Homo sapiens: one gene and its partners. The protein of the gene in region 4 interacts with the protein of the main gene of each other region in a pairwise test. Each region holds a gene or a part of one and is shown on either strand. Other genes may lie near its edges. The genes, in order: PNCK, SYNCRIP, RPIA, PTPN11, GAB2, DDR1 and FRS3.

What was found.
Region 1: the proteins of PTPN11 (region 4) and PNCK interact in a two-hybrid assay, tested with the Homo sapiens proteins (one large-scale study listed by BioGRID and IntAct).
Region 2: the proteins of PTPN11 (region 4) and SYNCRIP interact in a two-hybrid assay, tested with the Homo sapiens proteins (one study listed by BioGRID).
Region 3: the proteins of PTPN11 (region 4) and RPIA interact in binary tests that used the Homo sapiens proteins (3 or more experiments, as listed by UniProt).
Region 5: the proteins of PTPN11 (region 4) and GAB2 interact in binary tests that used the Homo sapiens proteins (3 or more experiments, as listed by UniProt).
Region 6: the proteins of PTPN11 (region 4) and DDR1 interact in binary tests that used the Homo sapiens proteins (3 or more experiments, as listed by UniProt).
Region 7: the proteins of PTPN11 (region 4) and FRS3 interact in a two-hybrid assay, tested with the Homo sapiens proteins (one study listed by IntAct).

Annotation. Positions count from the first base shown.
Region 1 is NC_000023.11:153,671,014-153,675,101, forward strand, and holds the start of PNCK (calcium/calmodulin-dependent protein kinase type 1B), read right to left. Parts: upstream 2,801-4,088; 5' UTR 2,767-2,800; intron 2,672-2,766; exon of another isoform or gene 2,504-2,671; intron 2,372-2,503; exon of another isoform or gene 2,287-2,371; intron 2,276-2,286; exon of another isoform or gene 2,258-2,275; coding exon of another isoform or gene 2,209-2,257; intron 2,066-2,208; coding exon of another isoform or gene 2,064-2,065; coding exon 1,996-2,063; intron 1,685-1,995; coding exon 1,553-1,684; intron 1,188-1,552; coding exon 1,113-1,187; intron 1,006-1,112; coding exon 867-1,005; intron 660-866; coding exon 536-659; coding exon of another isoform or gene 408-535; exon of another isoform or gene 348-407; coding exon 272-347; intron 178-271; coding exon 65-177; intron 1-64. UniProt on the Homo sapiens protein: Calcium/calmodulin-dependent protein kinase belonging to a proposed calcium-triggered signaling cascade. In vitro phosphorylates CREB1 and SYN1/synapsin I. Phosphorylates and activates CAMK1.
Region 2 is NC_000006.12:85,632,887-85,636,386, reverse strand, and holds part of SYNCRIP (heterogeneous nuclear ribonucleoprotein Q), read left to right. Parts: intron 1-3,500. UniProt on the Homo sapiens protein: Heterogenous nuclear ribonucleoprotein (hnRNP) implicated in mRNA processing mechanisms. Component of the CRD-mediated complex that promotes MYC mRNA stability.
Region 3 is NC_000002.12:88,690,210-88,694,472, forward strand, and holds the start of RPIA (ribose-5-phosphate isomerase), read left to right. Parts: upstream 1-1,463; 5' UTR 1,464-1,489; coding exon 1,490-1,774; intron 1,775-4,263. UniProt on the Homo sapiens protein: Catalyzes the reversible conversion of ribose-5-phosphate to ribulose 5-phosphate and participates in the first step of the non-oxidative branch of the pentose phosphate pathway.
Region 4 is NC_000012.12:112,417,493-112,421,746, reverse strand, and holds the start of PTPN11 (tyrosine-protein phosphatase non-receptor type 11), read right to left. Parts: upstream 2,801-4,254; 5' UTR 2,636-2,800; coding exon 2,622-2,635; intron 1-2,621. UniProt on the Homo sapiens protein: Acts downstream of various receptor and cytoplasmic protein tyrosine kinases to participate in the signal transduction from the cell surface to the nucleus. Positively regulates MAPK signal transduction pathway. Dephosphorylates GAB1, ARHGAP35 and EGFR.
Region 5 is NC_000011.10:78,218,821-78,222,320, forward strand, and holds part of GAB2 (GRB2-associated-binding protein 2), read right to left. Parts: exon of another isoform or gene 3,376-3,500; coding exon 3,285-3,375; exon of another isoform or gene 2,960-3,284; coding exon 2,857-2,959; exon of another isoform or gene 1,969-2,856; intron 1,625-1,968; coding exon 1,499-1,624; intron 596-1,498; coding exon 452-595; 3' UTR 1-451. UniProt on the Homo sapiens protein: Adapter protein which acts downstream of several membrane receptors including cytokine, antigen, hormone, cell matrix and growth factor receptors to regulate multiple signaling pathways.
Region 6 is NC_000006.12:30,897,588-30,900,656, reverse strand, and holds the end of DDR1 (epithelial discoidin domain-containing receptor 1 isoform 2 precursor), read right to left. Parts: coding exon 3,060-3,069; intron 2,585-3,059; coding exon 2,350-2,584; intron 1,770-2,349; coding exon 1,620-1,769; intron 1,502-1,619; coding exon 1,361-1,501; 3' UTR 501-1,360; downstream 1-500. UniProt on the Homo sapiens protein: Tyrosine kinase that functions as a cell surface receptor for fibrillar collagen and regulates cell attachment to the extracellular matrix, remodeling of the extracellular matrix, cell migration, differentiation, survival and cell proliferation.
Region 7 is NC_000006.12:41,777,101-41,781,189, forward strand, and holds the start of FRS3 (fibroblast growth factor receptor substrate 3), read right to left. Parts: upstream 2,801-4,089; 5' UTR 2,716-2,800; intron 2,573-2,715; exon of another isoform or gene 1,630-2,572; intron 1,077-1,629; 5' UTR 933-1,076; intron 1-932. UniProt on the Homo sapiens protein: Adapter protein that links FGF and NGF receptors to downstream signaling pathways. Involved in the activation of MAP kinases. Down-regulates ERK2 signaling by interfering with the phosphorylation and nuclear translocation of ERK2.

The DNA of each region.
Region 1 (4,088 bases), on a different chromosome or scaffold from region 4:
GGTCAGCCTGTCAGGTCCCCACTCCCTTGCATCACCTCCAAGCACGGGCCAGCCTCAAGCTCACCTGATTCTGAGATGTCATCCCAGAAAGGAGAGTCAAACTCATAGCTGGCCCTCAGGATCTGGCTGAAGAGCTCAGGGTCGCTCTCGTCGTAGAAGGGGGGGTACCCACACAGCCTGGCACCCACAGATGAATCATCCAGCTGTCCCACCCTCCCCAACCCAGCAGGGGCAGGCAGGCAGGAGACAAGCCTTCCCAGCGGTCACTCACAGGATGTAGGAGATGACGCCCAGGGCCCACACATCTACGGCCTTCCCGTAGGGTTTCTGCTCCAAGAGCTCTGGGGCTGGGGGCCAGAGACAGACAGACGCACGCACAGGCACACACGCAGCCATGCCGCTCAGTGTCACTGGCTCGGCCTACTCAAGCCCAGGAATGGCCCACACAAAGGCAACGGGCACAACAGCCTTCCCGGCTGTCTAGGGTCCCCCAGGCCACCCCACTCCCAGCAAGCCTCAGGGTGTCGTCCCTCACCCACATATCCAGGGGTCCCACAGGCGGTGCCTAGCATGTTCCCAGCCTGGATTTTGGAGAGTCCAAAGTCAGAGACCATGATCTTCGAGTCCTCAAAGGGCGTGGCATACAGGAGGTTTTCGGGCTGTGACACACGGACACCGGGAAAAGGGCCAGTCAGTCCTGACGCGGTGCCGGTGCTGGGACAGGATGGGGACTAGGCACTCTCAGGTTCCCCAGAGCCTTGGTGGAGCAGGAGATCAAGAAAGGCCCCAGCCGTGCTCCCGGGAAAACAAAGGCAGGGCCAGGTGGGCAGGTGGGAGGGTGGGGTGCAGAGGCCCCAGCCAGGCACCTTGAGGTCCCGGTGCACGATCCCCAGGCTGTGCAGGTAGGAGACGGCGCCAAGGACCTGACCCACCAGATGGCTGGCATCCTTCTCTGTGTAGGAGCCGCGCTCCATGATGCGGTCAAACAGCTCGCCACCCGTCACCCTGGGGGTGCCAGGGGTTTGGCTGACCCAGGCACTCAGCCTGGCCTTCAGCCCCACTCACTGCTCAGTCCCTCCCCGGCTCCCACAGCCTGCCCAGGCCCTCCTCACAGTTCCATGGCCAGGTAGAGGTGGGAAGGGCTCTCGTGGACATCCTCCAGAGCGACGATGTTGGGGTGACTGATCCTGCAATGGCAAGGAAGCGCCTGTGGGCCAACAGAGTCAAGGGGTGCTCTGTCCTGAGGCCCTGGGGAAAGCCTCCTCCCTCTTCTCTTCCTCCCACCTCTGCTCCCCATTCCCTACCACATGCCACCCCTGCCCGGTCCAGGAAGGCAGAGCTCCAGCCTGAGCCCCGGCCTTCCTTCTAAAGCCCATTTGAAAAGCACAGATCAATATCAACTCACTCCCTTTGCCACAGGGATGTGCAGGCCCAGAGAGAGCACTGCCCCAGGCCTCCCAAAGGTTGGTGGCCAGGCCTGGACTAGAGCCAAGGACTGCTTGCACCCCCCCATCGACCTATGCCCCGTCCCAGGGCCCCGCGAGGTGCGCACCTACGGAGCACTGCGATCTCGTTCTCCACCAGGGCCTCCTTGCCCCGGAGGGCCTTCTTGGGGATGCACTTGAGGGCCACGAGGTGTGCGGAGCCCCGCTCCTGGGCCAGCACCACCTCGGAGAAGGCACCCCTGCCGCAGACGGGGCGGTGGGAGGTGGGAAGGAAGTGGGAAGAGAGGAGAGGCAGGAGGGAGAGAGAGTGGAGCGGGGAGGGCCCCCTGTGAAGGAGATGGGGAGGCCCTACCTGGCCCTGTGCCACCCCCCACCACCACTCACACATGCCATCTCACAGACTCACTCACATTCACACACCCCTACATATTCACACACACACACATCATCTCACACCCACTCGCGTAGTCACACACACATGCCATCTCACACAGGTACACACACACACACACACACACACACACGATCACACACGCGCGCGCACACTCACGAGCCGAGCCTCTCGCGGATCTCGTAGACGCTGCTGATGTCCTCCGTGTGTTTCTTCAGCAGCAGCATGTCTGCAGGGGCAGGGGAGAGGTGATGGGGGTCTCTCCCCGCCCCGCCGGGGGCAAGGGCAGCTTCCTCCTCCACCCCCTGCCAGGCAGGCCTCAGCCATTGCCGCTGCGCGCTCGACCCTCCCCTCCCCCGTCCAGGTCCACACCCCCAGACGGACGCCTCCCAGCGAGGCCACCGCATACACGCCTCCACATCCCAGGCCTACAGCTGCTATCCCACGCACCCTCCCCCGCACCCCGAAGGCGACCAGCGCCTGGATGCTGCCTCTCTGCCTCCACACATCCGGCCGCTTTCCAGAAGGCTCCATGCTCACCCACGCCGTCCCTCCCCCATCCACACATCTACAGCGCCCAAGCCCCCACCCCCGCCTAGACCCGCCACCCATGGCACAGCGCCCACAGGCACCCGCTGCCCAAGCCACCAAGCCGCCCGGGATGCACCTGCGACCCCCGCGCGCAGCCACCTGCCAAGACCGCGGCCACCCACGCGGCCGCAGACGCAGCCCAGCCCTCGGCGCCGCGGAGCAGGGGGACCTGGCAGCCTGGGCCGCCCGCGTCCCGAGCTGCGTGGACCGAGCGCGTGCGGGCAGGGGGCGCGCCAGGCGTGACAGGTGTGCTGCGGACGCGCAAGGCTGCGGCGGCCGCGGGCCGGATCCGGTGCGCCCCCGCCCCGCGCGTCCCCGCGCCCCGGAGCAGGTGCAGACCTGGAGCGGGTGCCGCAGCGTCGTGCCGCGCAGTGGCCGCAGCGCCAAGCCCCCCGCCCGCGCCCCGCCGGCCCCGCCCCCTCCGCGCACGCCCCCGCCAGCCGCCCAAGCACGCAGTGGCCCAGCGCGGCCGCGGCGCCGCAGGGCACCTTGTAAGGCAATCGCCGGGATCCGGCTCGGGTGCCGGCCGCCACCGCCCAGCCCACTGCTCGCTCGCGCCGCCTCCCGGAGCTGCGGCCCGGCTGGGCCGGCCCCAGGGCCTTTGCACCACCGGTGGCTGTCTCCCGGAGAGCTCTTCGGCCACAGGTCGGCAAGGCTCTCTGCCTTCCAGTCTCTGCCTTCACCGCCTCTCCGAGGACAGGCTGACCCGGCCACTTGCCCGAAAGCAGCCTCCATGCCTAGCTCCAGGACCCTGCAACCCTGCACCACAGCTCTGCCACCCTGGGCTCCCGGCACTCACTGGGCTCCCTCTGGCTCCACCATTAATCCCTCACCCTCGCTTTCTTCTCTACCCAGCAGCCAGAGCATTCCTTTTATTGAGATCATGTCACCCTCCTGCAGCTCTCTATGTCAATCCAAGTCAAAGCATGAGTCCTTAGGGGGCGGCCTAACGACTGCCCTGGCCCCTCCTCCTCCACCTCTTCCCCGGCCACACTGGCCTCCTGACGGCCCTAGCCTTTGCTCCCCTGCCTGGAATGTTCTTCGATCAGATATCTGCCTGGCTTGGCTCCTCGTTCCATCAGATCTCGGCTCAAATGTCCCCTCCTCAAACCGGCCTCCCCCGCCCTGCCCCTGCCAATTCTCTCCGCATAACCCTGCCCTGTCTTTAGAACGTCCAACCGCAAAAATCACCTTCTTCGCCTGGTCTTCCTCACCAAAGCGTCCGCTCCCAGAGAGTGTATCTCCGCGAACCCAACCAAGACGAGCCCAGGAAATAAGTGCGGGTGACCGAATTCAATCCTGCATCCAACAGTTACTGGACCCCCCTCGCTGCTCGCCATCCAGTCCCATGAGGTTGTGGCCAGCATCACAAGGGTTCCGTCAAGTGACCGTGGGCCCTGGCATGACACGACGTCTTCAAGAGAGTCCACGGGGCAGGAAGAGTTTTTAAAAAATCATTTTTCCAGACCTCAACTCCCATATATACTCTGTGTAAAAACTGGGAAATCTGAGAAGGCCCCTAGCAGCTCTTGCCCCCTGGCCTTTCCCAGTCACCCCTCCCAGGACACTGCAGAAGGCTCCAGGGACCCCAGCACTCAGAAACTCCAGTCCCACCTGCTCCTCTATGTGAAAATGGTTTCCTGGGACCGACATCTAAAACA
Region 2 (3,500 bases), on a different chromosome or scaffold from region 4:
GCAACCTCCACCCCTCAGGTTCAAGTGATTCTCCTGCCTCAGCCTCCCGAGTAGCTAGGATTATAGGCGCCTGCCACCACGCTCAGGCTAATTTTTATATTTTTAGTAGAGATGGGGTTTCGCCATGTTGGCCAGGCTGGTCTCGAACTCCTGACCTCCGGTGATCCACTCGCTTCGGCCTCCCAAAGTCCTGGGATTTTAGACGTGAGCCACCACGCCTGGCTAGAAAGAAATTTTAATATTTTAAATTATAGTTTATGTAAGTCCTTTAAACTAGTTTTATTAAGTTCTGTGACAGAAGTGGTTTCTGCATTTTATAGTTGAAGAGTTGGGGGCTAATTTAAACCCATAGAATGTATCAAGCAACACGACTGGGGAGAACTTTTGTACAAGATAGCTCACTATGCCATGTTTGTTAAATTTGCTTTATCTGGCTTACGTATCCTGTGGGTAATTCCAGACAAACTTAAAATCTTCAGACTCATTTTTTTTTCCCTCCCTCCTGAGTTTTACCCCTTCCTTTACCATGAGGTTTATCACTTTAAGCAAGCCTTAAAGAGAAAAATAAAACTCATAAGTCTTCCTTTTCTTTTTTTTTTTTTTTTTTTTTTTGGGAGATAGAATCTCACTCTGTCACCTAGACAGCAGGAGTGCCATGGTGCGATCTTGGCTCACTGCAACCTCCGCCTCCCAGGTTCAAGCGATTCTCCTGCCTCAGCCTCTCCGGTAGCTGGGATTACAGGCATTTATCACCACACCTGGCTAAATTTTGTATTTTTAGTAGAGACAGGGTTTCACCATGTTGGCCAGGCTGGTCATGAACTCTTGACCTCAGAAGATATGCCTGCCTCAGCCCCGCAAAGTGCTGGGATTGCAGACGTGTGCCACTGCACCCGGCCAAGTCTTCCTTTTCTATGTTGTGTGAATATTCCCCACTGGTTTGCATAATTGAGTATGATGGAAGTTAAACAGTACAAAATTATGTTACTTGAAAGAATATAAGCCTTTACAAAGAGAATTTGAGAATTTAGATATTTTCAAATCATGTCTGATTTTTCTCTTCATAAAAGAGTGCTTTGTGTTTTAGAGGGAATTCAGATTTACTGGTAACCTTTGAGTTGTCAAAATTTTAGTTTCAGCAGTTCAATTTGAGGGGAGGGGCATTTTAGAGCTCTAGAAAGAGGTACCTTAGAAATCCTTTAGTTTGTTTTTATGATTTGTTTTTTGAGACAAAGTCTCTGTCACCCACGCTGGAGTGTGTGGGCATGATCTTGGCTCACTGTAATCTCTGCCTCCTGGGCTCAGGCAATTCTCCTGCCTCAGCCACCCGAGTAGCTGGGATAATAGGCGCGTACCACCACACCTGACTAATTTTTGTATATTTGGTAGAGATGGGGTTATGTTGGCCAGGCCGGTCTTGAACTCCAGACCTCAAGTAATCTGCCCGCCTTGGCCTCCCAAAGTGCTGGGATGACAGGCATGAGCCACTGTGCCTGGCAGGTTGGTCTTGAACTCATGGTCTCAAGCAGTCCTCCTACCTCGGCTTCCCAAAGTGCAAGGATTACTGGCATGAGCCACCTTGCCTGTCCCAAAATCCTTTAATCTCCTATAAAAGAGTAGAATATTTTTGCCAAGTAGCAATAAAGTAGCAGTAAGTGAAAATGCAGAATGATCCAGTAAGCAATGAGGTATCATAACTACAGAAAGCTAATACAGTGGGCTCTCTCTACTGTGGGTCCTGCATTCACAGTTTCAGCTAGCTGAGGATTGAAGATACTCCCAAAAAACCCAATAAAAAAAAAAAACAACACACCAGTGTATGAGAGAATGTTCGTAGGTTATGTGCAAACACTATGCTATTTAAGAGAGTTGAGCATTCATGGATTTTGGTATGGGTTCCTGGAATCAGTCCCCCGTATGTGCTGAGGGACCACTGCAGAATTTAGCTAGTGGTGTCATCCATTTTTTAACATTATGAAAAAGAATCATTAAACTGACATCGTAGGTTACCTAATTCTTGCCGTCAAAATGTACCAATTATGGTAGGTGACCACTATAACTTATTTATAGATGTTTTCCAGAAACTTTACAGTAAAGATACATCATTAGAGGAAGATGGTTTATAATCCATTAGTAACAGTGATTTCGAGTGCCAGTAGACACTAGGAAATGTTTCCATTTGTACAATTGCCTTGTTTAATAAATACGTTAAATTATAAAATTGCATTGCTGTAGGTTGCTTAGAATATAGTCTTATTAATATAGTTTTTAAATATAATGGAGAAACTTCTATAGATAAGCATTCTTTTTGATTGGCGTAGGAATTAACCCTTGTCCTAAAACTTTCTACATTTCTTTCTGGGTTTCTCTGTTGTGATTTGAATCCTTTTCTGGGGGCATAATTATTTTGTACTATCTAATTAATAGGAGACTTTGCATTTTGTTGTCTTTTAAAAGATACTTTTGGCAGGGTGTGGTTGCTCACACCTGTAGTCCCAGCACTTTGGTAGGCTGAGGTGCAAGGATTGATTGAAACCAGCCTGGGAAACATAGACCCCATCTGTACCAAAAAGTAACAGATTAGCCAGGCAGCGTGCACCTGTGGTCCCAGGAGGTCAAGGCTGCAATGACCTGTGATCATGCCACTGCACTCCAGCCTGGGCAACAGAGACCCTGTCTCAAAAAACCAAAAAGGGGGAAAAAAAAAATTTCCAATGGTAGGTATTGGTATACAGCCAGTAGGATATATTGGTCATACCATCATTTGCTTTTTTTGACTTTTTAGTAAGTTTTTTTGAAACGGAGTCTCCCTCTGTTGCCCAGGCTGGGGTGCAGTGGTGTGATCTCAACTCACTGCAACCTCTGCCTTCTGGGTTCAAGTGATTCTTCTGTTTCAGCCCCCTGAGTAGCTGGGATTACAGGTGCACACCACCATGCCCTACTGATTTTTGTATTTTTAGTAGAGATGGGGTTTCACCCTGTTGGCCAGGCTGGTCTCAAACTCCTGACCCCAGTCTCGGCCTCGGCTTCCCAAAGTGCTGGGAGTACAGGTGTGAGCCACCACACCCAGCCTACTTTTAAGTAAATTGTTTATTTTATTTATTTATTTATTTATTTATTTATTTGTTTTTGAGATGGAGTCTCACTCTGTTGCCCAGGCTGGAGTGCAGTGGTGCAATCTCGGCTCACTGCAAGCTCTGCCTCCCGGGTTCACGCCATTCTCCTGCCTCAGCCTCCTGAGTAGCTGGTACTACAGGCACCCACCACCACACCCAGCTAATTTTTTTTGTATTTTTTTAGTAGAGACAGGGTTTCACCGTGTTAGCCAGGATGGTCTCGATCTCTTGACCTTGTGATTCACCCGCCTTGGCTTCCCAAAGTGCTGGGATTACAGGTGTGAGCCACCGCGCCCGGCCTTAAGTAAACGGTTTTAATTATTATTACTGTTTTCGGAGACAGGTTGTCACTCTGTTGCCCTTGCTGGAGTGCAGTGTCATGAT
Region 3 (4,263 bases), on a different chromosome or scaffold from region 4:
CATGCGCAAAGTGATAGAGGAGGGGTGGGCAGGAAACCCAATTTAGATGAGGTGGTCACTTAGACTTCTTTGGGAAGGTGGTATTTCAGCTGAGTCAGAAGGGTGGATGGAGCAAGCAATGCACAGATGGCCAGGCTGGCAGGTAGAGCATTTAAAATGGTTCAAAGGTCCTCAGGCCGGGGGTAATGGGGTAAAGCAGAGACTAGGTAACATTTACTTCATGAATCTTTTGGTGTGGGTGCTGAGGAGCATGAATAAGGTGAAAGACTCCTCCTAAGGAGATACATTAAAGGTGACATATTTGCCTAGAGTAGCCTTCAACTTTGCAGACCAACAGTAGTGGGAGTCCAGACATACTGTTCTGCATGTTAGCCAGAACCTTTTGCTATGTTCTGAATTTGGCCTAAAATGAAGGATTCAAATATCATCTCAAACAACTTTTCCTCCTACAGACTAAGGTGAAGATTCAAGAGCTCACGGCCTCAGAGGGCAAAGCATAGTTAAGAAAATCTAGGTGATAACCGGCAGTTAACAGTGGCCCATACCAGTGACTTGCGCTCACGGAAGAGTTCTGAAGGCCTGGAATGCGTTTGAAGATGAGTTCATGAGCAGACAGAAAGGATTCCACTAACAGCCGAGAAACACAAAGGTCATGTGTTTTTAGGGACCTCCAAGTGGTCGGTAAGGTTGGGGTCAGCATTAGTTTCTTTGCCTGTAAAATGGGGGCAATAAGAATTCCTCGTCCCTTAACTATTCTCAACAGCAAGAAACCTTAAAGGTAGAGAAGAAAAGATAAATCTGTTTTCACAGAAAGTCCTTGTTAGTCACGAAGGATTGCAGGATCGCTGCAGGGCACACTCATATGTGCAGAACCAGTCTCCAAATGGGCGGAGCAAGGTGCAGCTCCACCTGCTTCACCACTAGGTGCAGAAGAATGTCCACGGCAGGGGGTTCTCAACTTGTGACCTTGGGTCTGCGGGGGTCTAGATGGACTTCAGCTGGCGCCGTGTCGCATGTGAGTTTCCTGGGCTGTAGTAACCCCAAAAGGGCCGCGTCGTCTACAGAAGTGCCACTACTTGGAATTCTTGTCCATGGCCACGTTCTCACTGCTGGGAGAAACAACAGGGTCAGGTCTAACACTCCTTTCTCGGATGCATGGGCGAACAGAAATATCCCTGGGCTTCACCTAGCCGTGGCCTAAGTACACTTCCCCAGGGTAAGGAGTCACCATACTGATATTCCCGCGGCTAATGGTACTTCACAGAGCGAAGTGCCGGAGCCCGTCGCCGGCGATTGCGCATTCCGTCGCGGAGAGCATTATGGGATTGGTAGTCCAGACTGAGGCGCAGATAGGGGTTCCTCGAAGCCACAGAACTACATTTCCCAGCAAGACCCGCGCAGCAGGGCACGCAGACTGTGTGCGTAAGCGACCAGATTTCCGGGGGAGCCGGGGGCGGGACTTCAGCGGAGGCCGGAGCGAGGCGTCGGGATGCAGCGCCCCGGGCCCTTCAGCACCCTCTACGGGCGGGTCTTGGCCCCGCTGCCCGGGAGGGCCGGGGGCGCGGCCTCCGGCGGAGGAGGGAACAGCTGGGACCTCCCGGGTTCCCACGTGCGGCTGCCGGGGCGTGCACAGTCTGGGACCCGTGGCGGTGCTGGCAACACAAGCACCAGCTGCGGGGACTCCAACAGCATCTGCCCGGCCCCCTCCACGATGTCCAAGGCCGAGGAGGCCAAGAAGCTGGCGGGCCGCGCGGCTGTGGAGAACCACGTGAGGGTGAGCACTTCGAAACGTGGGGCGCGGGGCGCATGTCCTTGGCGTGATGGGCTACTGTTGCGCGTTGTGGGTGCTGCCGGGGCGCGCCTAGCTCCTGGCAGGGCGGGAGCTGAGTGAGAGGGTAGAGGGTGTGCACTTTACCCGAGTTTAGACCCCTCTTCCCTGCTCCTTAAAGACCTTTTAGATGTGGAATCGGTTGGGGGCGAATCTTCTAATACTTGAGCTTTCTAAAGACTCCTTGTCCAGCTGGAACAGTTTGCAAAGTGGAGCCTGGTGCTGTCTGATGTTTGGAATGGGGGCTAGAGGCACTTGCCTTGTGGCCTCCTTATCAATAAATGGAAAATGGTGGGCTTTGGGGCTGCGGAGAGGTTTTCATTTCTCTTTACTGACCCGGAAGCCGGCGGAGAGTTGGTTTGCTAGTGCTTTGAAATTTCAGTCGAAGGAGGTTCTGGGCTTGGTGCGCGCCGGCCCCTGAGTGTACTCTTGGAGGGAAGGGAAGACCCGGGGCTTCAAACTTCCTTCTTTCCATAGGGCTGGGTGGACTAAGTCTGGAGGATGCTGGTTTATTTTTTAAGGCGGGTCTGCAGAGATGTTTAGCTGTTATTCAGTCAGGTCGTGGTCCCTACTTGTTTGTTAAGTGGCAGGTGTGGTGCTGTTAGTGGAGTTTTTTTAATCCAAGTGGTTTTGCTGTCACCAATCAAGTATCTTAATTATAATAAGGAAGCCAAGTGGAGTATGTCTGCCCTGTGGTGTAGTTTCCTTGGTCTTATTGGCTTTTTATCTCTCGTTTCTACTTATTAGAAAGTGGTATTAGAGTCTCTTTTCTTCTCCGATAATAGTTCTTTACATTTGTTAATGCTTTACAAAATTATTTTGCTTAGATGATGTTGGATGAGCTTCACCACAGCCTGTTTGAGTGGGAGTGGACAATGTGGTAACCTGTGGCTCAGCCAGTTCTGTAGAAGGGATGTTCCAGTGTGACCTTCTACTCTTTCCACTGCTACCCTGTTCTGGTGTAGCTTGTTGTAAGTCTGATTGGCAATAGGATTTTCTATGGGGATTAACAGAGATAATGTAAAATGTGTTAATTTGACCCTACCTTTGGGATTCAGTGCCTCCGTTGTAAAATTGAGACAATAAGCTGAAATTTCAAAATATCTGCATACAGTGAATAGCTAATAGATAAATGTAATCCACATGAGAATACAATTAGAAAAGCCCCATATCTAAGTTGTCCTGTTAATGAATTTACATTAATATTTGGTGGCGCATCTCCCTGACCTTTGTGTTATAGTCATGTATTTGATTAAATAAAAATCTGCAAGCCCTGACCTTAGGCTAGAGCCCCAAAACACTGGATTCTGACCACATCATTTCATGAAGTTAGGTAATTTTGGGGAGATCTACAGTGACCTTTTGGGGGCACCTGTTAAAATCATATATGCCCTTCAGGGTTTGGCTTAAAGGCCATTTCCTCCTTTCAGTTTTTCCTTAGCATCCTAAGGAGAGGAAGATTTCTCTTCCGTGATTCTGTAGCACTTCATGCCTCTTATGTGCTTTATGTTGTATCTCATGTTTTGGTCATCTGTGTGTTCGTTTCTTCCAGCCCCTTAAAGGGTAAGCTCCTGGAGGGTAGTTAACCTTCATTTAGCATTGGTCACAGTGGGTCCTGCCCAGTACATGTTTGTTCAATTGTGTGCAGTGTGGACACAAATACGAAAGTGTTGGGGTTATTGGAGGTTCTTTGTGTAGAATCTCTGGGGAGTAGGGCTTCCTGTTCTCTAGTCCATTGGAGTTCCAATATGGTGACCACTTCCGTGTCTGAGTGGATGGAAAACATGGAGAGTTCTCAGGTGAATCCTTTGTATAGCCACCTTGGGCCCAGCTCTGTCTGTTTCTGTGGGTGTAGCCACCCAGGATGGGTCGACATGCAGAACTAGGCTCTTCTGAATGTCTGTAGCCTCATCCCTTTGTTCTCTTTGGAGCCTGGGCTTTGTTTTTTTACTAGCTTGGTTGAGGAAGCTGATGGGCAGTGGTTCTAGTTGGTTAGCAGAAGTAGTATTTCCAAAGTTACTCCATTCGACAAGCTGAGTGAAGTTCTGATGTTGCACATACATGTGGTTTAATATTGCCCATTAGAATGGGGCCACTCCTCTAGCAGGGCCTGCTTGGCAGTCTTCTGCTGTTGGGCCACCTCATAGGCAGCCTTTGGTCACCTCTGGTTGGCTTTGGCAAGGGCACTGATTTCCTGGGCCAGTCATTTGATTCCAAGGCAGCAGGGATCACATGGGTGAAGAGCTTTAGGTCTGGCAGGGCCTTGCAATTCCTGGTCTCTTTCAAAAGGCAAAGAACGAGCCTTATACAGAGCTTGTCTGATTCATCCGAATTCACCTCTGTGCCACCTGCCTGCTGGGGACTGTGAGTGACATGAATGTATGGCTAAGCTTGGTAACCAGGAATTTGGTGATTGAATTACTGTAAAGCTAGAG
Region 4 (4,254 bases):
CTGAGGAGGGGGGATGGATTGAGCCTAGGAAAACAAGGCTGCAGTGATTGCACCACTGCACTCCAGCCTGGGCAACAAAGTGAGACCCTATCTCAAAAAAACACAATAATAACAATAATAATAAAATTCTAGGGCTGGGCAGGGTGTCTCATGCCTATAATCCCAACACTTCAGGAGGCCAAGGTGAGAGGATCACTTGAACCCAGGAGTTTGAGACTGCCCTGGGCAACACAGTGAGACCCCATCTCTATTCAAACAATTTTAAAATTTTTAAAAATAAAATTCTAGGAAATGCAAACTAATACATAGTGACAGAAAGCAGAATAGTGGCTGCCTAAGAACAAAGGAAGGATTATAAAGAACATAAGGCAAAATTACCAGGGGTGATAGATGTGTTCATTATCTTGACTATGGTGGTGGTTTCCCAAGTGTATATGTATGTCAAAACTGATCAAATTGTACATTTAAATATATGCAATTAATTGCATGTCATTTATACCTCATTAAGGCTGGTTAACAAATAAAACAGGCTTATAATCCAAAAAATAATGAATCATTCAAAATTATGTGTATTATGTTCATAACCCGGCTTTTTGGGTGGTGCATAATACCAGGGCTGGAGGGGAGAAGGAATTACTCCATTTCAAACTGTCATCTTTACCACTTGCTACTTTGACTATGCCCACACTTCTATGCTTCTAAATGAACAAACTGGACAATGTAGGGTCTATTACTACCCAGACCTTTTCCCAACCCCCAGCCCCGTCTGATGTCTCCTAAAGCAGCAGATCCTTACTTGTCTGGAAGAGCAGACACCAGGAACAAAAGGCTCAATGACTATTTGACAGATTAAAGAATAGACAACTGTTTATTTAAAAGCTCCCTAAAGAATTAGAACATTTGAGGCTATACACTGTTCTGTTGAAATGCAGTTATATATTACCCAGATCTGTAAGCACTTGCCAACCGACCTGTCCAAGTCACTCACTTCCTACGAGTTCTCAGTTTTCTTTTTCTCCCCTTTTTAAATTCCAGATCCATGTATGAATAACATGCCAGGTGTGTTTGGAGGAGACATTCCTAATATTTTGAAAAATCTCATTCAGGCTGGGTACGGTGGCTCACGCCTGTAATTCCAGCACTTTGGGAGGCCAAGGCGGGCGGATCACGAGGTCAGGAGTTTGAGACCAGCCTGGCCAACATAGTGAAACCCTGTCTCTACTAAAAATACAAAAATTAGCCGGGCATAGTGGTGCGCCTGTAGTCCTAGTTACTTGGGAGGCTGAGGCAGGAGAATCGCTTGAACCTAGGAGGCGGAGATTGTGGTGAGCCGAGATTGCGCCACTGCACTCCAGCCTGGGCAACAGAGTGAGCCTCCGTCTCCAAAAAAAAAAAGAAAAAAAGAAAAGAAAATCTCATTCAAATAGCCTCAATAGCTTGAATCGTTTTTTAAATGTCTGAGACAGTGACCATAATTGAACAATCATGGAAAAGAATAGACAATGGGTCTTAAGTGTGAGTGGTATATAGAGTGACTATACAAAATAGCAGGATCACTATCTGAAAACAACAGGTCACACTACTGTTTGACAACAAAATTAAGGCTTACAAATGGTTAGCAATAGTTACAAAATAATAGAAGCAACATAGTGATTAAAAGTAGGGATTCTGTCTCCACCACCTACTAGCTGTGAGGTTAGGCAATTTACTTAACCTCTGAAACTCGGTTTACTCATCTTTACAATGGGGATAATAGTAGCCATCTGATAGGGCTGTGGTCAGAACTAAGCAAATGTTAGCTATTAGTAGTAGTATTACCCTGACCTTTCAAAGGATCTCATTAACTCACTAATCCTCCTAAGTTTCAAATCTTGTCATTTACTAGCATGTTGCTTCTGGGCCTCGGTTTCCTCATCCATAAAACGGGTACCAGTAAAGTGACCTGACTGTTAAGGTTGCAGTGAAGGATTAAATAACGAGATGCGGCTCCCTTCCTTTCCATCTCCCAAAGCGAAGATCGCAGAGGAAGGAAATACTTCTAGTGGCTGCAGATACAGTCAGTTTTTCCATTTCTGGCACGTGAGGGGTAGGAGGAAAAGAAGACACAAAGAGGCATATAAAAGGGTCAGGGGTCCTGCGTGAAGTCCCCAAATGCACGAAAGTGGCACAGTGAGCCAGAACGACTAGACCACTGGGGGCCCGGCCCCGCGCAACTCCCCTCTCGTGTCCCAAGGAGCCTCCCCAAGTGAGCAGGGTTATTTCGGAATCACCATGAGGCAATTCTCATGAGGCAATGGGTCAGGAATGCGGCGCTGAGCCTGGCCGCTGGCACCCGTGGTTCCCTCGGCGGCTCTACCTGCCCCGGGCCTGACGGGCATCCCCGGGGCTGCCGCAGCCGGAACTCGGGGAGGCAGGAAATGAATGGGGACCCGAGGGGTGGGGGCGCGGTGGGGCCGGCCCCCGGCCCCTGGAGGGCGAGGGGACGAGGAGGGAACCGGCCCCCAACCCCGACCCGGGGCGGGAGCCCGAAGCCCGGCCGGGGCGCCCCCTTCCGGACGGGGCTAACCGAACGCGGCGGTGGCCGGGCCGAGGCCCGCGCCGGGCCCCTCGGGGCTCCTCACCTCCGCGATGTCATGTTCCTCCCGCCCTCCGGCTCCGCGACGGACCCGCTCCTTGCTCAGGCTCCGCTGGGCTCGGTCACATCGGGCTGGCCCGAGGGAGGCCCGCTCGGGACCGGACGCGGGGCAGAGCCAGCCGGCCGCGCACAGACCCCCCTCCAGGCCTGGGGATCCCGGAGACTGTGCAGCTGCCCCCCGGCCCGGCTCGCTCCTCCTCCGCCCCCGCCCTTCGCCGCCGTCGCCCCCGTGATGTCACCGCTCGCGACGCCCGCCGCCACTTCCTGCTTCCCGTCAGCGGAGGACCGAGCGACGGCCGGGAATGGCAGCGCGGGGGCTCCGCGGAGGCGCCACGCACAGTGTCCAAAGCATCCTTGCTTCCTCCTGGAAACCGCGGCCGCCAGGTGTGAGCTGCGCGCTCCGCGTCTACGCCACCGACCCGTCCGGGCCCGCTGCCACATCGATTTCATTCATTTCGTTCCACAAATCGCCGCTCCACTCATTAGCTGTGGAACCTTGGGGAAATTACCTACTGTCTCCGAGCCTCGGTTTCCTCCATTCTTTTCTTTCTGTAAGATAAAGATAGTAGGCTGGGCGCGGTGGTTCACGCCCGTAATCCCAACACTTTGGGAGGCTGCGGCAAGAGGTTCGCTTAAGCCAAGGAGTTCGAGGCCAGCCTGGGCAAAAAAGCAAGACCTCATCTCTACAAAAAATGCAAAAAACTAACCGGGCGTGGAGGCTGCGGCGGGAAGATAACTTAAGCCCGAGAAGTCGGGGCTGCAGTGAGTCGTGATCACGCCACTGCACTACACCCTGAGCGACAGGGCAAGACACTGCCTAAAAAAATAATAATAGGCTGGGCGCGGTGGCTCACGCCTGTAATCCCAGCACTTTGGGAGGCCGAGGTGGGCGGATCACGAGGTCAAGAGATCGAGACCATCCTGGCCAACATGGTGAAACCCCGTCTCCACTAAAAATTCAAGAATTAGCCTGGCGTGGTGGGGGGCGCCTGTAGTCCCAGCTGCTTGGGAGTCTGAAGCAGGAGAATCGCTTGAACCCGGGAGGCAGAGGTTGCATTGAGCCGAGATCGCGCCACTGCACTCCAGCCTGGCAATAGAGCGAGACTCCGTCTCAAAATAATAATAATAATTACAATAAATACTACTTTGGGGTGGGAGCGGTGGCACACGCCTGAAATCCCAGCACTTCCCTTTGGGAGGCTGAGGCGGGCGAATCGCTTGAGTCCAGGAGTTGGGAACCAGCCCGGGCAAAATAGTGAAATCCCATCTCTACAAAAAATACAAAAATTAGCCGGGCGTGGTGGCGCGCGCCTGTAGTCCCAGCTACTCGGGAGGCTGAGGTGAGAGGATTGCTTGAGCCTGGAAGGTCGAGGCTGCTGAAAGCCGAGATCGCGCCACTGCACTCAGGCCAGGTATGGTGGCTCACGCCTTCATCCCAGAACTTTGGGAGGCTGAGGCAGGAGGATTGCTTGAGCCTAGGAGTTCAAGACCAGCCTGGGCAACATGGTGCGACCATGTCTCTTAAAAAAAAAAAAAAAAAAAAAAAAAAAAGCCGGGCCGGGTGGTACGGAAGTATTACTTTGGACACTCTGTGAAGCTCGAGCAAGAGAGCAAGGCCA
Region 5 (3,500 bases), on a different chromosome or scaffold from region 4:
TGGGTTGGTGAGACTTGTCTTCTGGGACTGAAGGAGAGGTAGCCCAGTGGCCGGAGGGAAGATAGCTGAGGGCTGTGACTGAACGTGAGGTGTGGAATCTGGCTCAGAGCCCCAGCCCTTCCCTCCAAACATCTGGTAGAGAGTCAGGTCTAAAGGACAGGAAGAGGCTGAAGGATGCTTTTTGGAAGTAGCTCCTAACTAAGGTGGGTGGAGGCATGGCCATTACTGATAAAAATCACAGCTGGGCCCCGAGTGGGCAGAGGAGGTGCCTTGATCAGGCCCTCACCTCCCAGGGGAAGGGTTCAGGGTCCCTGATGTCAAGTGCTTTGAAGGCTGAGACTGGCAGAGTAGAGAGGAGGTGGATGGGAGGAAGAACGGGAGAGGGGAGAGGGGAGATGGGAAGGGCCAGCTCTGGAGATGCTGCCTCCTGGGCTCTGCGGTGGCCCTCTCATCACAGCTTGGCACCCTTGGAAGGCTCTGAGGACTGCCGCACGTCTGTCCACTCCTGCATGGTGTTCTGCAGGGCCTGGGTCTTCTCCTTGTCCACCTGAACGTAGTCCACCTTCTCATCAGAGGTGACGGATGAAGTAGATGGCTGAGGGGACAGAGTGGGAAAGAGGGAGTAGCTGTGAGTTACCAGTTAGGTGGGGAGGAAGAAGGTGGGCACGGGATCTTCCTGAGCTGTCTGAAGGGGAGAAGAGCATGGCCTCTGCCTGCCACTGACCAGCCTCAGGAGCCTGGCTTCTCTTTCTGAATGTGGGCTTTAAAGCTCAGACTCCAAACTCATCATCCCTCCTGCAGGATGTAGCAGCACCTGCCAGCCCTTCTTACTTCCCGGCTTCTGGGAGGACCCAGGCCCTTCCTTGGCCCTGGTGGATGGGTCCAGGCCTTCATCTCTGCCTCCACCCATCTCTGTCAGGTCGCTCATCCAGGGGAAGGAATTTGCTAGGTGCAAACAAACATCAGCCACAGGACTTTACGTGCTGTGCTCACTGCCACCCTGTGAAGGGGAACCATGCTGAGGCACAGCTCTGCACCCTTCTGTCTAGACTGCTTAGCTATAAGGATGCCTCCTGGGGAGGCTTTCCCAGGCCTGGAAGTCCCTTCTGAAGGCTGATGTATCGACGGCAGGGCTCTGGACCCACTCGAGAGCCCAGGACCAGGAGGCAGTATCCTCATTCCTGGATCTGTTGCTGATTCACTTTGTAACCTTAGGACAATCAGATCTCTGTGCACTCATTTGCCCATCTCTACAACACGGGGGATGGGCTGACTGATGAGGTTCTCTGACTGAGGGTACTGTGCTCTGAGAGCAGGAATAGGAGTCTTTAGACCTAGATGAAAGCTCTATGACTAAAGATGCATCATAAAAGCTGGGTACTGGAGCAGGAGGGAGGCTGAGTGCTGCTGTTCAGTGTTGAAGGCACCCTGGCCTCCATGATCTCTGCCTCCGGGACCCTGAGAGCTCTTACTGCCCCCCCAACTCTACTCCAGGCACCTTGCGGTGGGGGCTTGGGGAGCTCGGCTGGAAGTCCAGGGCCAGATAATCAACGCTGCCGGTGCTCTTCTTAGGGGCAGGACTGTTCGTGCCACTGGGAACGGGAGATGCAGACACTGGGTTTTGCTGTCACGAGGAGGAAAAAACTGTGAGTGACTGCAGAAAACAGACTAACCCACCACCCAGAAAAACACCTCTGGGAGTAAGAACACTGTTTCCCTGAGCCCTACTCTGACACATGCACCATGCTAAGGACTTTTCATGTTTTCATTTTAATCCTCATGACAATCCTGTAAGGTAGGTATGATTACTGTTGATACTGTTTAAAGCAAAGATGAAACTGTGGTTCACTTTACTTTCAGAGAAGTGACTTTGCCTGTGGCTGCACAGCTGTTGAGTGATGGGAATCAGGTCTGTTTTCTGACTTCCAAACCTGTGCTAACCCCTGTACCACACTGCCTCCTTTCTAGCACATCAGGCCAAGTCTCATCAACAGTGGCTCTCCTGAGACATCCAGCCTTTGCTTGCTGGCGCTTAAGAAAGGAGCACATTTCCTTTATGCACTGGAAAGTTTTCTTCTGTCGCACCAAATCAGCCCCTGTGAAACTCCCACCTGTGGCCTAGAGTGGGGTAGTCACCCCAAAGCAGCTTGCTCCCCCGCCTAGCTCCTCCAAGATCTGAAGAGGGTGGCTTCATCTCCAGGCTGCACAAGCCCGCATTTCTTCAGATGACACGCTCTAGGATCCTGTCCATCCAGGCTCGTGCTCTAGCAGAGCACCACCTCCTCTAGAACTTTCTGGAAGTCTTATTCTAATGAGAAGGTGATAGTCCTGTGTTCTGTTTGTTGGCTGCTTTACTGGTTGGTTAATTCATTCTTTCACTATCTATGCAGTGACTACCAGGTGCTGGGCAGTTACGCCCTTAATGGAAATCTCAGGGAAGAAATATCCTCCTCTGCCTGTGTTGATAGCTCTATTATGGCCTCACCAAAGTGAGTTATGTGCACGTATGCCTCTCACCACTGAGGAGATACCTCCACCACTGAGGAGATACCTCCAGCACTGCCTATCCAAGGGCACAGATCATGCCACCCATGTCACTGTCATGAGAGGCAGGCCCCTGCTCTTGAAGACCATGACTTCGTTGGGACAGGTCTCATGTCTTCCTTACATCTGATGACAACTCCTACTGCTTGATAAACAGGTGCTCAAGAAGGGTTTGTAGCAGGAGACTAAATCATGAATAATACAAGGAGTCCCTGGGCTGAGGTGAGTTAGCTAAGCTGGGAAGTGGGGAACTGAGGGGTGGGTCCCAGGGGACTTGAAAGGCGTCATTCCAGCGAAGCCCGAAGGACTCACCATAGGGACATAGTTCTCTTCGCTGTCTCCTGAGTCTGTGCTGGTGATGCTCTGGGTGGAGATGGGGCGGCAGTACTGGGAGGAGCTGGAGTTGAAGGTGTGGCTGTTGTGGGAAGGAAGAGTTAACACTGGGGAAGCTGCATGGCTGCTGCCATGTTTCTAGCCTCCAGCTGGGCCCTGACCCTCACACACCCAGACCTCAGCCATTAGAGCTGCACACTCCATCAGATTAAGATCTGATATAGGGCAGGTATAATTATTCTCTTTTACAGCTGAGGAAACCAAGCCACAAGACATCGAGACATGATCAGCTAATGATAGCGTTAGCATCAGAATCCAGCTGTCCCGGCCCACAGGCCAGCTACCACATCACTCATTTTCCCTAATGGCCCGACTCCAAGCTCCCACCCCCACACATACGCACTTACTTGGCCCTAGACCAAGACTTGGTGATAGGTGACTTGAAGGGGAGTTCATCGATGACGGTGTTGTTCCTCAGGTCAAGTGGTGTTGGCTTTGCTGGAGCAGGAAAAGAAAGTCTGGTAATCAGCCAGTAATGATAATGCTACACATACACACCTTATATATAACACATGAGCATGTTTATAAAGGCCTGCAAAGTCATTCCAGTTTCACACAGGGAA
Region 6 (3,069 bases), on a different chromosome or scaffold from region 4:
AATTTTTGTATCTTTAGTAGAGATGGGGTTTTGCTATGTTGGCCAGGTTGGTCTCGAACTCCTGGCCTCAAGTGATCTACCCACCTCAGCCTCCCAAAGTGCTGGGATTACAGGGGTGAGCCACTATGCCTGGTCCATTTTATAGGTTTTAAAACCTAATTCTGAGGAGGACTCAGTAGACCTCTACAGACTGCCAAAGGCGTTTATGGCACAAAAAAGGTTCAGCACCCCTGGCCTGACTGCATTCCTTCCAGGCCTCCACCAGAGCACCCCTCTGAGTTGAGAAGGTTCATGCACTCAGACATTCATGCATCTCCTGAGGTCCCACAGGCAAAGGCCTGGATTATCCAGAAACAGAACACAATGCTGGGCAAAACAGGTGATGGGAAATGGAATGAGGAGGCAGGAAAAAAGGAAGATGGGAAGTGGGTTGGGAAGTGGGTTCAGAGGGAGGTGCAGGAGGCAGAGTTACCAAATTCCCAAGGAACCCACTCACACAGTTGTGGAAAACTCAACCTTTATTATTACCTGCCTAGTGCAGGGGATTAAAATTGCCTCAAGCTAGGTCCATATATTAGTGTAAAAATCTGTGTCTCTCCCCCCAAAAATGTACAAACCCCAAGTGATTATAGAAAAATCAATGTGGCAGCTACACTAGAGATGTCCAACCCCAAGGCTATGGGCCGTTGCTCCCTCTTTCCCCCCAATCCCAATATTTACTCCACAGAAACGTATAGGCTTAGAGAAGTTCTAGCTACAAGACTGCAAGTGGGAAGTGGGGGTGACTGAGGGCTGGGGCGGGGCTACCCCCAGGTCCAGTGTTTCAGGTGATGGAGGAGGAAGAAGCCCAAGCTGAGGACAAGTACAGGAGCAGGCACAAGGAAACATTTTCCTCTCCTTCTTGTCCTCCTCACCCCCAGATTCTCAGCCAGTGGGGTCCAGTGTGTGACAGGGAGAGAGAAGCTGGGGGCGCAGCCACCTCTCCAGGAATCAGTGTTGTCCAGTGGGGCCCAGGTGCTCCAATGGGCCATGTCCAGTGTCTATCCTATATTTCTCCCCACCCTTCCCCAAGGGATGGCTAGAGGAGGGTGGAGAGGATCCCATCCACAGGACCAGCTGGGTGGGCGACAGGGGCTTCTAGGAAGGAAGAACAGGAAGGGGACATGAGAGTGTGTCCAGGAAGGGGAGAAGGGGCATCAGCTCCCTGGGTGGGCCCAGCCCACCTGCAGTCTCACTGCCTCTATTAGAGGTGATGGGCTGTCGGGAGGGGAAGGGCAGAGGTGCCATTGTGTCCTCTTGTTTTAGTGTCACTGGCTTCCCCTGGATCGCTCCCTGAGGGAGGGGCAGCTGGATGTGTGATTCACACCGTGTTGAGTGCATCCTCTGCCAGGAACCGATGCAGCTGGGAAAAGGGTGGTCGCTGCTCAGACTCCCGGCTCCAGCACCGAAGCATCAGCTCATATAGGCCCTGCGGGCAGGCAGGCGGCCGGGACAGGTACACCTGCATTGTGGCAGTGTGGATGAGAGTCAGGGAACAAATATTCTTTAGTCTCCAAGATGACAACTCTGCCCCTTCTGTCCCCCGCCTCGGACCCATCTTCCCTCTCCTCCACTCTGACCTGCCGGCCCTGGTCCCGGAAGAACTCCCCCGCGTTCTCGATGACCTGCTCGTCGGTGAGCTGCCCAAAGGGCTGGGCCCTACAGAGCATCAGCACCTCCCACAGGGTCACACCAAAGGCCCACACGTCACTCGCAGTCGTGAACTTCCCCTGGGATGCAGAGAAGGCAGCAAAAACAGACAGGGACATCAGGCAACGTAGACCCTCCTCCCTTCCTATTGGAAGCCCCAGATCCACTCTGGGCTCCACTCAGGCCTGATCCCTCCTGACGCCAGGCTCTCCACTCTCCTCCGCTGGCCACCTTTTCCAACTCCTCTCCCTTGGGCTCTGCCTTTCCTCTCCATGCTCTGGTCCTCTCTCCAGGGCCCTGGCCCACCTCTTCCTTCTGCTCCTCCTTCCTCTCCATCCACCCCCACTTTCTGGTCCTGACCTTCGGTCTCCCTACCCAACCCCTTCTATCTCCAGCTTCCTCGCCCAACCTCATCTCTTGAGCTCTCTGCCACCCTGTCTCCATCCCCAGTACCCACTCTTGGCTCCTGGATTCTTGCCCATCACACTGCAGCTCCTGCTTTCCCCAGTCCCTTGGGCTAGGAGAACCTCATATTATAGATGAGATTCTGTAAAATGCAACCCAGAGAAAGTGTGTGACTGATGGAGACCAGGGCTGTGAGTGGCGGCCAGTGTTCTCCCACCTGCCCTGCTCCAACCTGGCTGTCCTCGGGCTGCTCACCATGAGGATGCACTCCCAGGCCATCCAGCGGATGGGCAGCACTGCCCGGCCCTGCACACGGTAATAGTCCCCAGCATAGAGGTTCCGGCTCATGCCAAAGTCTGCGATTTTGATGGTGAAATTTTCCCCAACTAGGCAGTTCCGCGTGGCCAGGTCCCGATGTACAAAGTTGAGTGTGGCCAGATAGCGCATGCCGGAGGCGATCTGGGCTGCCACATGCAGCAGCATTGGGTAGCTGAGAAGGGAACCGACAGAAGGTCACTGGGGGCAGCTTCGCAGATTCCCATCCAGGAGAGGAGAGAGAGCCCACTCCCCGGGCCCGGTCACTCTGGCTCCCCATGTGGAGGTGGAATGCCCACGTGAGGCCAAGGGTCACTTCCCTCTCAATCTCCCAGGCCTGGCCAACACTAGGGGGCTCTTCTTTTATTGTGCTCCCCAATCTGGACTCAGAGGGGAGTGAGGGTGAGAGAAAGCAGAAGGGACGTCATGGCAGGGCCCAAGTCCCTTCACCACTCTTGCATAGTCACCTCCAGCCTTTCTGTCCATGTTCCTGGGTTAACTTGTCACACATTCCTTATCCCAGGCCCTCCTGGAACCTCTCTCCCTTCCCACCCCCACGCTCCCCTCTTTTCCTCCAGGCTGAAGCGAGGGGAGAGGAGGAGATCCCCTGGGGGAATTCTGAGCAAGGCCCAGCCTGGGTAAGCAGGTACCTGATGGTGG
Region 7 (4,089 bases), on a different chromosome or scaffold from region 4:
TCACCTACTCTGTCCAAGAGACTGTGTGATACAGACCCCCCCTCAAAGACTTCACATTCTCAATCCAGGGCCAGACACACATTGGATAAACGTTAATTCAAGTTACAATGTGTTAAGGATGAATGCCGATGGGGGGCTGGAGAGAGCTTCTCAGAGGTAACATTTGATCTGGACCTTGAGAAGTATGTAGGATTCTGACCCATGTAATGACAAGGAAGGCAGGGACACAGGCAGGAAGAAAAGTAGGGGTCCAGGAGAAGTGATCTGCAGCAGATGGAGGTGGGTGCCAGCCCGAGCCCCTTATTTGGATTCAGCAAAGAAATTGTCACTTGGGGGTCTCAGACACTTTGGCCTGTGCCTGTCTCTTTTTTCCTCCCTTTTTACCTCATCCATTCCACTTCATCCAAGTTCTCTCTTCTCCCTTACTACCATCCCAACATCCAGTGCAAATTTATCTTTCTGATGTCCTCTTCAAATGAGTTGTTACATTGTGATCATAAAGATATATTCAGAAGACTGAACATTTAAAACAGTGCAGTTTTAATAACCTCAAGTGGATATTTCTTCATTTAAAAAAAATGCTGGGTTTCCTTCCCTTTTTCTGAAGGGGAGACCAGAGGCCTTACTATTTGGCTCTTCCCCTCCAGGATTCCAGTACTTGGATTATATGTCACAATAGTCAGGACTGTGCCTAGAATGAAGAGGACACCACCCAAGCTTGAATGACCTAAGGGAACAAGAAATGCATGGACCAATACCAAGCAGAAGTTTTAAGGGGTTGCAACTTGTCACAAGAAATAAGTCTGTAGGATTGGCTATCCTTCTAGAACTCCTGCTGAATGGTAAAGCTTTGAACAACCAGGTGACCTGTACCCTCTGTTCCTCCCAACTTGGGAAACGCCATAAAACTGACCCCTATACACAGCTCTTACCTCACCCAGGCCATCGGGGAGCTGACCGTGGGAGGGGCATGGGGAAGGGTTCCCACTTTATTCCCCCCGTCCTTGGTGGGCTGTCATGGCAAACAGTCTGCAGAGAAGTCACCCGGATCCCTCTGGGATACACCTGGGGCTCACCTAGCATAGGAAACAGAGACACTGATTAACAAAACCTTCTATCTTCACCCCCAACTGTTAATGAAAACTGACCTAACAGTCCATCCCACCTGGGTATCTGTTCCAGCCCTAATGGGACAAAAACACCAATGAAGAAAGTAAAATCAAGGGCAAAGGGAGCACAAATCCCAAGCCCCACGGGCCCTGAGAGGGACAGACACCAAGAACATCAATAAGTTTGAAGTCTAAGACGACCAAAGACCTTTTAAGTCACTTTAGATCTCCCTCTGAGTCCTGTTACAACAAACACCAAAACCATCACCTTACCTTTGCAGAGAACTTTAACTCTACAAAGAGCTTTCTCAAAAGGACACTGTGATATAGTAGAGACAGCACTGGTTTAAGACTCAGGAAACCAATATATCGGTCAGTTTTGTTGCTACTAAGTATCTGGGAGACTTAAGTCAACGCCCCCCCCAACTCCCACCTAAGGCCTTAGTTTTTGGGGGAACCATCTATAAACTGGGGAGCTTCTAGCTTAAATAACTTGCAGAGGTAAAAACGTAAGACAAACTTCACTAAAATTGACATGTTCATCTTCCAAGACAGGCTGCTTCAATTTCGCATTTGGAAGCTTGATAGATTTTCTGCTCCCCAAGCTCTGAAAGGCCTAATTTTAACATAAATGTTAACAGTAAGCCAAAATTTCAGGATATCTGAGCCCAAGGTAGACAAGTCAACAAGCCAGGACTCTGCAGACCCTGGACATCCCACATTCCTGCTCTGGAGAAACACTTCCCAGGGCCCCTTGCACCCTGCATCCTTGGACAACTTCCAGGTAAAAGGACCCCATCCCCTTGGTCTGGCTTATTTTCTGGAAGGAAGAAGCAGGCTCAGGGAGGTGTGCACAGACTAAAGATAGGTTGCTGGGAAAATACTGGGGCTTGAGCCACCGACGGGGGCACGGCGCGGGCACTGAAACGAAGAACTCTAGGGTGCAAGATGGGGGAGGGGCTGAATTTCCCTATCACCATCTCTTCTCCTTAAGATATCAGGATGTATCAGATAGCCCACTGAGGAGGGACTGCATTGAGTGGAAATGGGGAGAGGCCTCTGGTCTGGGATAGGTATGGATCAGGGGCAGGAGTGAGAGGGGGGTGTGGGGGCTGAAAACGTATGAGGACGTTTGGGGAAACATGAGCAAGAATTTTGGATGTGGGCATTTTGGATAGTGCAAGGAGAATGGGGATATGAGGGATCCTAGGAATTTCCGGGCAGTGGAAGCATTTGGGGGCATCCAAGAGAAATGGTGGGTCCGTGGGCATAGCAGGAGATTTGTTGAGTGAATGAGGGGGTTCTGAGGGCTCCAGGAGATGCGATGATGTGTCCAGGGCGGAGAGGGTAGAGGTGGGTTGGGGGAGCCAGAGGCTGCAGGACAGGCTACAGGACTGTCAAGGGGAATTTCTACATGCCCGTAAGGAATGAGGAGGTCTGGGTGCGCGCTGTCCCCGGATCCCCGCCCCCAGCCCCGGTGCTCCGCCGCCTGCCCGCCCGCCCGGGGCTTCCTAGGGAGGGAGTGGAGACTGCGGCGCGGCGCGGCGCGGCGCGGCGCGGCCTCGGTGAAGCCGCCTCGTCCCCGCCCCGCCGCGCCCCGACTCACATCGCCCCGCGGCCCGGGCGGCGCCGGGCCCCGCTCCCGGGTCCCGCTGCAGCAGCCGCCGCCCGCCCGGAGCTAAGGCCTCCCCGCCCCGCCCCGCCCCGCGGCCGCGGGGTCGGAGGTCACCGGCAGCACCAACGAGACGCTGCGGGCTGGCGGACCCGAGCGGGGGCGACCGGCACGCAGCCTAGAAGGTCCCTTTGGAGGACTTTGCAGTCGGGAGCAGTGAGCATGCGCAGACGCCAGAGGGCGCTCCTGGCCAGGGGCTGAGCAAGCCCGGAGGGGACAGGGCGGAGCCTGCGGCGGAGGCGGGGCGCGGAGGCGGGGCTGAGGACACCAAAGTTGGGGGTGGTCCGGGGAGCGGAAAGGGGACGGAGGGTTGGGCGAGAAACGAAGGGAAGGGGAGAGGGTCTGAAGGGACCTGAAAGGAGAAGGGCAAGACGATGGAACCTGGAAGAGGGTTGAGGGGAGGGGAAGGGGCCAGGGGGACCACTGGGGACAAGGGGGAGAGAACTGAAGGGAAACACGCGGAGGAGCGGGGCTGGGAGACCACAGGGAGAGTTTGGGGAGACCTGGGAACTGCGGAGAGACAGGGCTGCGGGCCCGGCGAGGCGTTTCCATTCAGCGAATGGTTGAAAACCCAGCGTAAACGCGGCTCCCGGCGTCTGCTGGATGCCTGCCGGGCGCAGTCCGAGCCAGAGAGCCCTTGCACCTGCATGGCAGAGGCCATGGAGCCCGCACATTTCCACCCTGAGATCCCATAAATGTGGTTTTGTTTTCCTTTTTTTTTTCCTCCCCCCAATCTGCAGCTCCAGGCCCCTCCCTGAGCCGCCCCTCTCCACCAGCCGGGGAGGGGCGGGCGGGGGCCGCTGGGGCGTGGGAGAGGAAGGGCCGCGCTATTAGGGCGGGCGGGGGCGGACGGGGGCGGGCGCTGAAGCCTTGGGGTGGGGACCGGGTGAGGGGCCTGACGGCAGAGTCGGTCCAGAACTGCCCGGACAGCGACGCACAGCGAGGGTGAGACCCCAGCGGAGTCCTGGTCCCCTCCCCTAAAATCCCAGCAGCCAGACCGGGAACCCCAGCGGACTCGGGAAACACCGCGTCCCAGCCCCGGAGGCGGGCCCGCCAAGTTCCAGAAAAACTCTGGGGATCTATCGAGAGGGCAGTTGGCGGGACTGGGCACTCCCCTTCCTTCTCCCTCCCACTGTCCCCAGAAATCTTCCCATCCCTCCACCTCCCCAAGCCCTAAGTCCTCTCGGGCTCTGCCCTTCAGGGCAGCGGGTGTTGGGGATGTCCAGCTCCTGAGCCCTCTTGCACGGAGGCTCTGCACGGAGGCAAGACAAGGGGTTCAGCTCTGTCCCTTATCTGAGGTGGGAGGGG